Regions from separate parts of the Homo sapiens genome. Here region 2 is reported to be linked to region 1. The links are microRNA targets in miRTarBase. Many come from high-throughput screens and were not tested one by one. Region 1 holds a microRNA gene; the other region holds the end of a gene's coding sequence.

Region 1 (7,000 bases):
AGTCCAGAAAGAGCTGCCCAGGTCATGGGCCCTCCGGATCGGTGTCAGCATGCAGCGCATATCATCAGCGAGCTGATTCTTACAGCCCAGGTGGGTCCAGCTCTGCAGAGTGTGAGTGTTTGGGCTGCAGAAGTGGAAAGTGCTACCCGGGGCTCTCGGTGCAGCACCATAGAGCTGTCACCCTGAGGCGTCTCAAGTCACATTATGGGAAACCAGCAGTTTCTCTACATCAGCCTCTTTCCTGCCTTCTTGGTATTTTTTTCTGCTCATTAATTATTCTGCCTTTATTTACCTCACCATCTAGATTGCCTTTACACAGTAAGTTTCTGGCTATTTAAACCATGTGGGGAAATACCATGGAGATTGGTCGCCAAGTTTCAAATAATCAAGTGTATTTAATGTTAATCTGTGTTAGTGAAATCCAGTCTTAGTGGTAGAAGACACTTCAGGGTCCTCCAAAGTCCTAAAGCTGCCTTCATGCACTTGATTTCATGCACATCTTTGGACTGTGAGCCAGCCTGTGTGACAGTGCTAGGAACCCCTATAACTGATGGTAGGACTGAGGATACATTTGAGAATGACCAGAACGGAAGAATAAAGCAAGAGATTGGAAATTATAGTCCCAGCTCTGCCATCAGTCATGTGACCTTGGAGCTGCCTTTGAACCTCTGGGTCTGGTGTTCCCAGCAGCAGACTCAGGGTGCTTTGCACCAGGCAGTGCTCTCTATGTGATCCCCTAAGAGCCATCTGGTGGTTCTTACTCAAATTACAAATGTGTAGGCCCCCACCCCAGATCTACTGAATCAGCATTTCCAAGGGAGGGTCTTGGGTCTTCACTAGAGACCCAGGCAATTCTTAAGATTAGACAAGTTTATAAAACGGCCACTAAATCAAGCTCGTTCAGCCTGTGGGCTGCACGCAGCCCAGGAACAGCATTGAATGCAGCCCAACACAAATTCATAAACTTTCTTAAAATGTTACAAGATTTTGTGTGTGTGTGTGTGTGTGTGTGTGTGTGTGTGTGTGTGTGTTTTTAAGCTCATCAGCTATCATTAATGTTAGTGTATTTTATGGGTGGCCCAAGACAGTTCTTCCAGTGTGGCCCAGGGAAGCCAAAAGATTGAACACCCCTGCTCTAAATGATCTCTAACATCCTTTTTTTGTAGCAAGAGTTTATGAACCTTGGCCAGGCACGGTGGCTCACTCTTGTACCCAGCATTTTGGGAGGCCGAGGCAAGCGGATCACCTGAGGTCAGGAGTTCGAGACCAGCCTGACCAACATGGTGAAACCCTGTCTCTGCTGAAAATACAAAATTAGCTGGACGTGGTGGCTCACGCCTGTAATCCTAGCACTTTGGGATGCCAAGGCAGGTGGATCACCTGAGGTCAGGAGTTCAAGACCAACATGGTGAGACCCGTCCCTACTAAAAATACAAAATTAGCCGGGCGTGGTGGCGCATGCCTATAGTTTCAGCTACTCAGGAGGCTGAGGCAGGAGAATTGCTTAAACCCAGGAAGCGGAGGTTGCAGTGAGCCAGGATCCTGCCATTGCATTCCCGCCTGGGCAACAAGAGCAAAACTCTGTCTCAAAAAAAGTTTATGAACCTTGCACTGCAGAGGCTGCGAGATGTTTGGGAGAAAACCTTTTCTTCGAGATCTGTGGCATACCCAGAAAGTTGACTGTGCGCTCCTGTGCGTGTGTGAACATCCATTCTAAAATTGCCTTGTTTACTTGGCAGTTGTCTCATAAGAGCAGAGTGCGGGGGAAAAGCACTCCAATTGTCTCAGCTTTCTGCTGGTTTAGATTCTGGGTAAACGTTCACTTTACTCTTAATCAACATGAGCAGGTTTTGCCCAACATTTCTTCATGTGTTGAAAAGTCTGTGCAGCTTCTCCCTTCCATGAAATAGCTCTTAGCTTGACCAGGTTCACCCTCCACATTTAAGAGAGTTTAAATACTGCAGCTCCAAAATGACTCCGCGGACAGCGGCTGGAATGAGACTTGCTGCTGTCTCAATGAAAGGGCTCTTCCTCTGTCCGCTGTTAGATTTAGGTTTTTCTCTCTGCTGGGTGAACAGTGGGAGAATGCCTCAGAGACTTCTCCAGCCCCACATGGGGAGGAGGCCTTGGCAGGTTCCCTCTGTTCCTCCCTTCTGAAGTATCCCTGAATGGTCACTCTTGAACCTGTTACTGCTGCTGCTGCTTGGGGGCACAACAGCCAAGAAGTTTTCTAAAACTGAGTAAAATCCGTTTATCCTTCTTGCTGACTGGAGTGCCAGGTGTTGTGACTCATAGCAGTGCCTGGTTGGGGAGGGTCAGCAGGCTGTGCATATCTGACTTCCCATAGGCCCAGTATGTGTCCGCCGCAGGAAAGAGGGGCCTCAGCTGCAAGGGAGAAAGCAGTTCTTGATGCCTGTAGATCGGGGCCCAGTGAGGAAAGCTCCAGGGAGAAAGGCCGCTGGGCTTCAGCCTTGGAGTTTGTGTCTGCCTATTTCTGTTGGATACATTTGAGCTGTTTATGTAACCACGTGTGTTCGTCTGCACAGGTCCTCCCCAGATACACCTGTGATCGGTGTTAATTCTGGCTTGAAAGAGCCCTTCAGAATGGGAAGTGTGGAAAGGTGCTAGGTTCTGATGGGTGGCATTGATTACATCCTGTCACTTAACCTCCTCCCTGGAAAAGAGAGGAGCAGTGGTGCTGTGGCAGTGGCAGAGGTCGCTACAGCCCTGTGATCTTTCCAGGAAAGAGACGGCTTTGGAGGCCTGGCAGCAGCCAGAGGAAGAGGTCGTGGCCGTGGCGACTGGAGCGTGGGAGCCCCTGGTGGCGTCCAGGAGATAACATACACGGTGCCAGCCGATAAGTGTGGCCTCGTCATAGGCAAAGGTAAGAGGCAGCTGGGGTTTCACATCCCCCCTCAGCTGTTTGGCTTGAGGGAAGGCAGGTCACGGGACCTCCAGAACCTTTGGTGAGGTCCCTTTGCTGCTGCAGGCTGGGGCTGCCCGGTCTGGAGGCAGTAGCCACCTTCTGCCGAAACCCTGCTTGGCATGGTTCTCTGAGGCTGCTGACGGGCCTGTTGTGAGGAGCAAAGTGTATTATTTCTGGTGAGTATGAAGAGACAGCAGTAAAACTCCCTGCCTGTTGAGGGCAGCTTAGCTTGGTGAAAAGATACCTTGCGCAAGATGGGGGGCATTTGTCAATCGACTGATTGGTAATTAACTCACCTCCAAGGAACTTAGAGGGACGGTTGAGACAGTATCCTCAGTGAAAATTCCTTCTCGACAGTGTGTCACTTGTTTCCCTTACCAGGTTTGAGTATTTGGTCTTGATCCGCGTAACATGTGAAAATGGTTTTTATCCTTTCTGCATATTTACCGTGAGTCACGGACTCTCTGTGGAGGGAAATAAACATTGATGTGTTAGTTTTTTCTGGGCATTTTGGAGAACATTAGGAAGAAACCCTCATTCATGGCTACTGTAGCTCCTTCCTGTCCTTCACTGAGAACCAGGAGAGAGCAGCCACATTTCTCAGCCATTGGCAGCAGTTCATCTTGGCTAGCCCTGGGACCCAGAAAGGCTACTGAGACCAGGGCCGAGGCTGTGGGGCCTTCCCAGTGTAGCAGCAGGGCTCGGCTTCCGTGGGGCTCTGAGCCAGGCCTCGCTGCCAGCGGGGGACTCCCGTTGTCACTGGGTTTCGTATTTGCCTTCATTAGGTATTTGACAGCATGTGGAGAAAACAGTCGTCTCTCCAGAGTTTCTCAAATTTCTTTGATCACCAAATACCCCTTAGCTGCTTGAGGGGCGCTCGTATTGGATAGGCAGGACTTGGGGATGCTTCACCAGCAGAGACCTCCAGAGCTGGGCAGGTGGGAGCCCCCCGACACTCACCTCCCAGGAGCTGCCCTCGTCCCTGCTCACAGACACTGTGGGCTTATGCTCTTGCAAAATGCAAGAAACCGTGTTGTCTTTTAGACTGAACCACTCAGAGTTGGTATGGGTTCGTGTTCATTTGCCGGCAGGTGTGCGGGCTGGTGAGTGTTTGGGGATATTGCAGGCTGCACCAGATGCTGCCAGAAGTCCCACACTACCCAGGCCGTCAGCCTGACCGCTGTGAGACTGCAGCTAGTTGATGCCTGTAGGTTGACGATTAGCTAGATCTAGATTTCTTGGCCTTTTGCAAACTATTTTGTCGGCGAAGTTTTCATTTGCTTGTGTCTCTAAACCCTGACTGAGCATTGTTGCCTCACCATGACAGGTTCTCATAGTGAGCCCTTGGTGCTCACAGAGCAGCCCCTCGTAGTTGGTCCTCCACAAAGTCATCCTGAGTGATTCCTAGAAAACAGTGATGAGAACGAAGCAGTAACTGGTCTGTGTCCCATGCTTGAATAGCAGCCTAAAGAAGCCTAATTAGTGTCTCGGATATGGGAGGGTCTTTCTATGTCACACACACACCGCACTAAACACACGCACGCACGCACGCACGCGCACACACACACACACACACACACCCCCTACCCCTCAGGGCCCATGTGAGACATCTCTTTTCCTTGAGATGGGCGCCTGGGCAAGGGAGAGAGGAGCCCCACGCAGCCAGGCCCATCTTTCCTTGGCCTCTGGCCTGGACAGACACAGAGCCTCCCTGGCCCCTGCTGGATTTCCATGATAAACACAGCAACATTGACAGATAGCTCAGCCAGCCTGCTCTTGTCAGCCAGGCCTTTTAGCAGGTTTGATTAATTGCTTTACGATTTCACGTCCAGCCAGGGGGCCACTGGTGGGGCACTTCTGCCCCCCATCAGGTAGAAGAATGGAGCGGGCTGCTGAATGAGTCTATAGACAGCCACCATGTGCCAAGCTAGTGACCTCATTTTGAAGGAAGATGAACTTAAATTAACTCCTTCTGGCCCCACGAGGTTTTGTGGCGCCTCCTCACCTTATTAGCATGTTCCCAAGGCCTGGGGATGAGGGGCCCAGTGGGGAGGGCCGGGGCCTCGGCTGTCTGGGGACTGCAGGATTCTCAGTCGCAGACACTCGTGTACTTGTGCTTTTGCCTCCAGACCAAGTGGATCTGGTTGGAGGCTGGTAGGGTTCCCTCGAGTCTTACGTGTGCCTGTGGAAATGGTCTCCATTTTGGTTTCTATTCTTTTTTATTTTTTTTTATTTTTTTGAGATGGAGTTTCGCTTTTGTTGCCCAGGCTGGAGTGCAGTGGCGTGATCATGGCTCACTGCAACCTCCGCCTCTGGGGTTCAAGCGATTCTCCTGCCTCAGCCTCCCGAGTAGCTTGGATTACAGGCATGCGCCACCACACCTGGCTAATTTTGTATTTTTAGTAGAGACGGGGTTTCTCCCTGTTGGTCAGGCTGGTCTCGAACTCCCAACCTCAGGTGATCCACTCGCCTTGGCCTCCCAAAGTGCTGGGATTACAGGCGTGAGCCACCGCGCCTGGCCAAGTCTCTATTCTTTATTGCTCCCCAAAAAACATTGCCTAGGAGCCTGCTTTTCATGGTGCAGAGAAGATAAAATCCATGGCCTCCGAGTAAAGGGCAGAGGTAAAGGTCCCCTAGGAGGGGCTTGTACCGGCCCAGAGGAAATCAGAGCTGTGGGTGCTGGCCCGGTGTCCCCAGACAGGCGGGTCTGGCCAGGGTGGAAAATGCAGGGATGCTTCTCTGAAACTCCAGCGGGACCTTAAGGAAATCACAAGCACAACATTTGGTTTTGTTAGTTGTTTTTTAAATTTAAAACCACCCTAAACTTAACCAACGTCTTCTGCATGCGACCTTATCTGCATGCCATGTCTCCCGGCGTCTTTTCTCCCCCGTAAGGGCAGCCCCTGCTGCCTTCAGGAAGGACCACCTGCCTTTTTCATTCCTGGACCTCTGTAGAGTCCTTGCAAGACGCCCTTGTGTCTGCCTTTAGCGTCCCCTCCCTACTGGCCCGATAGGCTGTTGAGGCAGGGCTTTTCTGGCAGTGGGTAGAGAGAAGCTTGGAGTGTTTGGAGGATTGTGGACGGTGTCTTGGTGAGGTGCCACATGGCATTTAGGGCCTGTTTTTTTGACTGTGGGCATGGAGGAGGGGCCGACACTGGCCCCGGTCTTTGCTTTTGATCACCCAGGCTCGCTGCTGCCCTATACCAGCTTTGGAGCAGATTACCTTTTTCTCCACTTTTCCAAACTGTGCTCCAAGTTATCCTTGTATTCTGGCTCCTCCTAGCAACACTCCATCCCCCACAGAGTTGAGCAGAGCAGATCCGCAAGTTCTGTGAATTTCAGAAGAAGAATCCAACTATTGTTACGCTGCTGGAGCTTTTATTACGCAAATTTCATTAAGAGACTGAGACTCTCCGCAGGTTTTTGAAAGAGACCAACTGAATTTTTGTTAGCCCGGCTCCACCCAGGTCTTTGTGACCTCCACCCCATCCTTGCACTGCCTGTGTAGACCGTCACCCCATGGAGGAGGCAGGGACTTGAGAAGTGACAGGGTGGGATACTGAAGGCCCGAGTGGGCTCCAGGCATGGTTGGGCCTGTGGTCATCTGTTTGGCCTATGGAGAAAGTTGCCCACAGCCAGGCTGAAGGCCCCATTGTCATGGAGGCGCCCTTGGCTCACCATTCTTGTGCTAAGAAGGGCAGTGCCATCCCTGGCTGGGCGGGAGCCCCACAGCTGGCCCCCAAGGGTGAGCTCCATGGTGTAGACCCACAGGCCTCAGCCCAGACCTGGTCTCTGGGCCACTCACGACCTTCACATGGAGGTTTCACATGGCATCTGTGGCCTCAGCTTGGCCTTGAGAGAAAGTCCAGCTTCACTCCAAACAGCTAGTTTTGCAAGTGAGAGAGCCCTGGGTTTAGTTGGAACCACTTTGGAGTAAATAGAGACAACTTCTCTACTGTCAGGGCAAGTGCCGACGTGCACAAAATCCCCCCGAGTTGTCTTCTGGAGCCAAGTGCCCCAGAGCCTCAGGAGTTGCCGCAGTCTCTGCTTACTCTTCTGCCTGTGTTGTGCTGT
Region 2 (7,132 bases), not on the chromosome of region 1:
TGAACCCATGGGCTCAAGCAATCCTCTCACCAGAGTAGCTGGTACTACAATTACCTGCCACTATGCCCAACCTTTTTTTTTTTTTTAATTTTCCATAGAAACAGGGTCTCACTATATTGTCCAGGCAACTCCTGGCCTCAAATGATCCTTCTGCCTCAGCCTCCCAAAGTGCTGGAATTTACAGGTGTGAGTGCCTAGCCCTTTTTTTAATTTTTGAGACAGGGCCATGCTCTGTCACCCGGGCTGGAGTGCAGTGGTGCGATCATGGCTCACTGCAGCCTCTACCTCCCAGGTTCAGGTGATGCTCCCACCTTAGCCCCCCGAGTAGCTGGGACTACAGGCACACACCACCACTCCCAGCTGATTTTTGTATTTTTAGTAGAGATGGGGTTTCACCATGTTGGTCAGGCTGGTCTTAAACTCCTGACTTCAAGTGATCCACCCACCTTGGCCTCCCAAAGTGCTGGGATTACAGTCGTGAGGCCCCATGCCCGGCCTTCACTCACATTTTATTCCCATTTTTTTTTGCCTCTAGTCTTCAGATACTGTAAACAATGAACATTGATGTGCATACCAGTTAGATACCAATTAAATCTTTCCAGTATGGGCAAAACATTTTTTTAAGATGTTAATTGGGTTAGTTTGTGTGTAACTTTTTACTTGAGATTTCTTTTCATGACCATTTTCTTCTATGCTTAATATTCAAAATCATTGAAAAAGTTATTTAACATAATTTTATATGTTGTACCTTTTGGAAACAAGTATGATAGTGACATTTATCTTTTCAGATAACCTACTTTCTCTTTTTCCAGCTGCATTCCAGTCCATGATGACAGGAGGTAACATTGGAAAGCAGATAGTTTGCATTTCAGAAGAAATCTCTTTGTAATTGCTGTAAATGTCATCAAGGCAATCATAGATTTCTTTTCCATTTTGCATATTTTCAAAGATATGTTAAAAAATCCTTAGACTATACATAGCTCTTGATTTAAATGTGATCATAGGTGTTATTTTTAGTTGCATAGGGTATTTGATACAATCATTAATGGATCATACACAATAGGTTTTTAAAAATTAATAACTTTTAGTAATTACTTTTATTAATTTAAAATAGAACGCTTGAGAGGCACTTTGTAAAGATTTGTTAAACTGGAAACGTTTTACATGATCTGATACAACCATTAATGAATCATACACAATAGGTTTTTTAAAATTAATATTAATAACTTTTATTAATTTAAAATAGAATGCTTAAAATAAAATAGAATGCTTGAGAGGCACTGAGTAAAGATTTGTTGAACTGGAAATGTTTTACATGATTCTTAAACTGAAACTTGGTGTAAAAATAGAATTGAGATGGCCTTTTTTTCACATTGTAGACTGAAAAGAGACTTAATGGTATGATGTGTACATAGGGACTGGGGGCAGGATTGGGGGTTTCGGAGCTTGTGTAACAGTTTTTGGGATAGGAGACCAGCGGTTTTGGGTTGGGATTAGTATGGGAAGATAAATAACTTAGGTTGGTTAAGTTGACAAGATTTACTCCAGAGGATCATCTCTTTGTATTTGCCAAATAATTTACTGTATAGCCTAAAAACTCCATATATATTGAGAAAAGCATATGTTTATTTTAGGTTAGCAGGCACATACTGTCAAGTTGTAAAGATTGAGAGGGCAAACAGATGTAAACATCACTTGTAGGTGATTAAAAAGATTGACAGCCGGGCCTGATGTCTCAAGCCTGTAATCCTAGCACTTTGGGAGGCAGAGGCGGGCAGATCACTTGAGGTCAGGAGTTCAAGACCAGCCTGGCCAACACGGTGAAACCCCATCTCTCTAAAAATACAAAAATTAGCTGGGCGTGGTGGCACACGCCTGTAATCCCAGCTACTCAGGAGGCTGAGGCTGGAGAATCATTTGAACCTGGGAGGGGGAGGTTGCCGTGAGCTGAGCTTGCACCATTGCACTCCAGCCTGGGCGACAAGAGTGAAATTCCATCTCAAAAAACAAAAACAGATTGACAACAAAGACAGTTTCAGAAAATGACAGGACTGGGCAAATTAACAAATGTTTGTAAACATGAATGTTCAGGAACTACTGATGTACCTCAAAAGTTTGTTTTATTAATTGTACTCAACCCTCGCAGAACAGTAAAACTGAAGATTATTGTTTCTGAATGTTTTGGCTTATGATTGTCTACACACTGCCAATATACTTTTGTATGCAACATTTGTAATAAGTAGATTCAAACTGTGTTGGTAATCAGCCTCCCCAGTTTTCGTGAGTGGCCCTTTTTTGTTACTTTTCCTGGACCATTTCATCGCCTGAGGGGGTTTCACTTTTCTCTGTATGTTGCTAACTCCCAAATCTCCATCTGTATTTCTGACCTCTTTCTTGAGCACTGGACCTTTACCTCCAAGTAAATATCCTCAACTCTGGATTGCATCTTATACTCTGCTTTTTTCTTTTCTTTTCTTTTTTGAGATGGAGTCTTGCTCAGTCGCCCGGCGTGCAGCGGCACGATCTCGGCTCACTGCAACCTCCGCCTCCCGGGTTCAAGCGATTCTCCTGCCTCAGCCTCCCGAGTAGCTAGGATTACAGGCGCGTGCCACCACGCCCGGCTAATTTTTGTGTTTTTAGTAGAGACGGGTTTTCACGGCGTTACCCAGGATGGTCTCGATCTCCTGACCTCGTGATCCGCCCACCTTAGCCTCCCAAAGTGCTGGGATTAAAGGCGTGAGCCACGGAGTCCGGCCTACTCTGCTTTTCTAAAGTGGAATTATCTTCCTCTGAAATGTTTCTCCTTTATTTTAAATCACCATTAGTAATTTGTGTACCCAAACCTGTCATCAAGGCTTATCTTTAACCTTGAAAATGCCTTTTTAAAGAGAACTCCTTTAATTCCCACGGTTGAGTCTCTCATTCTTCCGCACGCAAATATTTTAAAATAAGTAATTTCAAGAAGTCAGTCAAACTCACAAAGCTTTAACAAGGTGGCATCCAGCTTGGAAGTCAAGTGTTCAAGCCCGCAGTCGGGACATCCAAGAGCTCTTTACATCCTAATTACAACACGGAACCCAGACTCACTGCATACCCCGTCCCGTATATAATGCAAAACTTGATTCTGCAAGTTCCTTTCTCGGGCGGTGAAACTTCGAAGGTCCTCTCCATGGAGACCTTTGATAAATGTTTAAGCAGTGATCTTTTCTTTCGCGTTTGCCTCCATTGCAACGCCTCCGCTGATGGGAAAAACTACTCCCTCCGCTACTGCGGGGTGGCAGTGACGTCAACGAATTAGCTGACCTGTTTTTTCGGGCTTCGCGGACATAGGAGTCCCGAAGGCCGAGAGTGAGTGAGTGAGTGGGAGCGGGGCGGCTGCGGCTCCTCCTGTCCGGGGCGGAGCCCTGCGTCGCGGGCCTGGGGAGGCCCCGCCAGCACCCTTGACGTCTGGGTCCCGAGCAGTGCGGCAGCCACACGACACTGAGGCGAGCGAGTGGGTGTGTGCGTGGGGGGTCAGCCAAACTTCCTGTCCCGCGCTCGAGCTGCTTCCGGCGGGAGCCGGAAGACGCTGTGTGTGGACGGAATTCGGGACCGACTGACGGCCGGCCGGCTTCCCGGAACTGGAAGGTGAGCTCCGAGGTGGGCCTGGCCACCCCTCCTCGGTTAGGTAGTACCCGAGAGGGCGGGGGCCAGTACCGGCTACTTGGGGCCTGGGGCCGAGTTCGCCCCGAGAGAGGAAACCGCCCTCCTTGGGCATCCCTCCTGGATCTGGCGGGCCCGGGAGCGGCCAGTCTGAAGCCCTGCGGCTTTGGCCCTTCCCCTCGCGGGTTTTTAGGGGCGATGTTCTTGCTCCTTTGCTTGGTTTTGGGGGTAGGGATATAGGAACAGACTGTCCTGAGAAAGCCAGAGTCAGCGAGTCCCCGGGGCGGGGGCTCTTGGACTGCACCCGCAGCCGGGGCCTGCCTACGGACCTTGGGGCCTTATTTCTGAGGCCTTTGTGGTGTGGGGTAGAGGATGCCAGGAGGCCTTGCCCTGAATGTTTCAGTCCAGAGCTACCCTCTCCTTTCATACCACTTACTTTCTGGGTTTGGAAAAGGGACAGCTGCCTACTCGGCTGGGCTGGGTCGCCCGTTTCTCCTTTGCCTGTCAGTTCGGGGGGCAGGAGTGTGTGGATTGTTTACGGCCTTCATACATTTCGTGTCGAATTTATTTTCTGAAGTTTCTCAAGATAATCCAATTTATTAAAGTTTATCCCACTTGATCATGAGGCTCAGAAATGCATTTAGGCACCATTTGGAAGTTAAATATTATTAACTTGGGACTTAAGAATTAGTACTTAGGTTGGAACGAAGGTCAACGCAGCATATTTGCAATAAATAAAAAACATTTGGAAATAAAGTCGGGCATTTTGTTAGGGAGTGAGAAATTGCACTTGGTTTTTTCTTAGTGTGGTGCAGAGTAAAAGACAACTAAAGTAGCAGTCAGAAGTTTTAAGTTCTAGTTTTTTACGTTTTGCATCTAAGTAGATGTCTAATTTTTGGCAAGTTGCTGAATCTCTAGCTCTGGGGAGTTTTTCTGTAAACGAAGGGGTTTACCTTTAGGGCTATGACAATTTTTCCGAGGCACTGAACTTTGAGTAGAAGTGACATAAGCATTTCTTTGTTTTGGAAAGATAACTTGAATGGCTGCATAAAGGATGTATTGGAAAGAGGAATTTTAAACGCGGGGTGACCAGTTAGAGGCCTGTTTTAATAGTATAGTAGAAAGTTACTGAGAGACCTAAACAGGGCATTACAGTAGGGAACAGAGAACATTCTGGGAACAGAGAATCACGGGAATTATTTAAAAATGGAGAATGAGAGAGATTTAAAGACCTAGAATTTGCAGCTGAGTGGGAGGAAGATTGGGCGATCATTGAAATAGGTAATACAAGAAGAACAGGTTTGGTAAGGAAGATAATAATCTGGATTTTGGACATTGTTAGGTTTGAGATGCTGTTGGATATACATGTGGAGATACCTAGCAAGCAGTTAGAAATGAAGGTTTGGAGTTCAGAAGAGATGACTAGAGAAAAATGTAGGTATCATTTGTAGTGTCATTCATTCATTATACAAATATTTAGTACCTACCAGTTGCTTACTGGGAAGCTTGTATGGAAGCCCTTTAAGCTCATAGTAAACACATTAGAAGTGGGAAGTGACCGTTAATGGGCACAGGGTTTCCTTGTGAGGTGATGAAATATTGTAAAATTGATCGTGGTTCTGCTTGTACAACTCTGAATGAACTAAAGATATTTTAATTGTACTCTTTAAATGAGTCAATAGTATGGTATGTGAACGATATCTTAGTGAAACTAATTTTTAAAAAAGATTTACATTGCAGTTTTGGAAATCTGTTGAGTAAGGAATTGGGAATAGGAATGTTTAATTGTGTATTTGCCGTTACACCTATAGCTAATGTACATAGTACGTTGCTCTGTTAAAGATGAGATCCCCACAGTACACTTGATAAGATACTGAGTGCTCTAGTACAAATTCTTTTGAGTTCAGTTGCATATCTTAATGCATCCTGCTATTTTTTATTTTATTCATACCGTACACATACAAATCATAAACTTGGACACAAAAATTGTATGGTAGTACTTAGTTATAATATGAATACCCAGTGCTTGAGAAAATGCTCGTGTTAATTTTTAAAGATTATTGAAGTGAAAACACTGAAATAAAAAGATGTCATAGATAACATAAAAAGGACAGTAAATAGTTGTCTGGTTCCTCAGAGATTTTACAATCCTGGAATCTCAAAGTTGGAGGAACCTTAAGGATGACTTAAACAACAAACATCTGATAATTTCTTGGCTTGTTAAGACAAGCTGGAATTGGGGAAGAGGAATTCTTGTTTTTTTTGAGACAGCCTCCATTTGTTACCCAGGCTGGAGTGCAGTGGCGTGATCACTGTTCAGTGCAGCCTCGATCTCCTGGGCTAAAGCAATCCTCCTACTCAGCCTCCCTAGTAGCTAGGACCACAGGCATGTGCCACCATGTGATGCTAATTGAAAAATTTTTTTTTGTAGAAATAGAGTCTCACTGGCTGAGATCGCGCCACTGCACTCCAGCCTGCGTGACAGAGCGAGACTCAGTCTCAAAAAAAAAAAAAAAAAAAAAAGAAATAGGGTCTCACTGTGTTGCCTAGGCTGAGAAAAGGAATTCTTAGGCCATGGAGATTCAGGGTCAAACCTAGAGAGATGTAATCACTATTCACGCCAATGATTTCTGCATACTTCTGGTGTGGGTGGGAGTCCTGGCTTTGCAACTTAATAACTTGGTAATTAAGTAATATACTGAGCCTTGGTTCCTTCCTCTCTAAATAGAGGGATGGATAAACCATATGAAACTGTTGCAGTGCTTGAATAAGAAAAATATGTGTGGAAGAAAAGTCAGGGATTTATGATACTTTATGTGGGAAACTTGGAAGGAGCATTTCCATTTATATCTTGTAAATGGTTAGTTTTTTTTTTTTTTTTCTCGACACAGAGTCTTGCTCTGTCGCCCGGGCTGGAGTACAGTGGAGCGATCTCGGCTCACTGCAATCTCCATCTCCTAGGTCCAAGCGATTCCCCTACCTCAGCCTCCTGAGTAGCTGGGTCTGCAGGCACATGCCACCACACCTAGCTAATTTTTTGTATTTTAGTTGAGACGGAGTTGCACCATGTTGGCCAGGATGGTCTCAATCTCCTGACCTTGTGTTCCGCCTGCCTCGGCCTCCCAAAATGCTGGGATTACAGGCGTGAGCCACTGCTCCCGGCCTAAATGGTTACTTTTTTACAATGAAAAATGAGGATTTCAGGTAGCTTAGAAAGAGAGAGGGAGAAACCAACAGGACAAAAAAACATTTATTCAGTTACTTTTTTTTTTTTTTGAGATGGAGTCTTGCTCTGTCGCCCAGGCTGGAGTACAGTGACGCAGTCTCAGCTCACTGCAACCTCCATCTCTCGGGTTCAAGCGATTCTCCTGCCACAGCCTCCCGAGTAGCTGGGATTACAGGCACCCGCCACATGCCCGGCTAATTTTTGTATTTTTAGTAGAGACGGGGTTTCGCCATATTGGCCAGGCTGGTCTTGAACTCCTGACCT

What was found. Region 1 holds the annotated microRNA hsa-miR-6856-5p (AAGAGAGGAGCAGUGGUGCUGUGG, at 2,681-2,704, shown strand). A microRNA usually pairs through its seed, bases 2 to 8, with sites in the 3' UTR of a target mRNA and lowers its output. Matches are read on the target gene's strand: a 7mer-m8 pairs with bases 2 to 8, a 7mer-A1 pairs with bases 2 to 7 and ends in A, and an 8mer does both.
Region 2: the mRNA of PTGR2 is a reported target of hsa-miR-6856-5p. Seed matches in the 3' UTR shown: 7mer-A1 at 1,833-1,839.

What each region holds. Positions count from the first base shown.
Region 1 is chr9:130,623,622-130,630,621 of GRCh38, forward strand. MIR6856 (microRNA 6856) reads left to right here and starts at 2,676; the gene lies at 2,676-2,742. It overlaps FUBP3 (far upstream element binding protein 3), which reads left to right. Exons shown (of 19, transcript NM_003934.2): 11 at 1-90; 12 at 2,743-2,884. RefSeq lists a silencer at 6,141-6,435.
Region 2 is chr14:73,883,289-73,890,420 of GRCh38, forward strand. PTGR2 (prostaglandin reductase 2) reads left to right here. Exons shown (of 10, transcript NM_001146154.2): 10 at 813-2,438. The coding sequence ends at 889. It overlaps ZNF410 (zinc finger protein 410), which reads left to right and starts at 3,571. Exons shown (of 12, transcript NM_021188.3): 1 at 3,571-3,627. RefSeq lists enhancers at 1,820-1,929, 3,561-3,630 and a silencer at 3,231-3,510.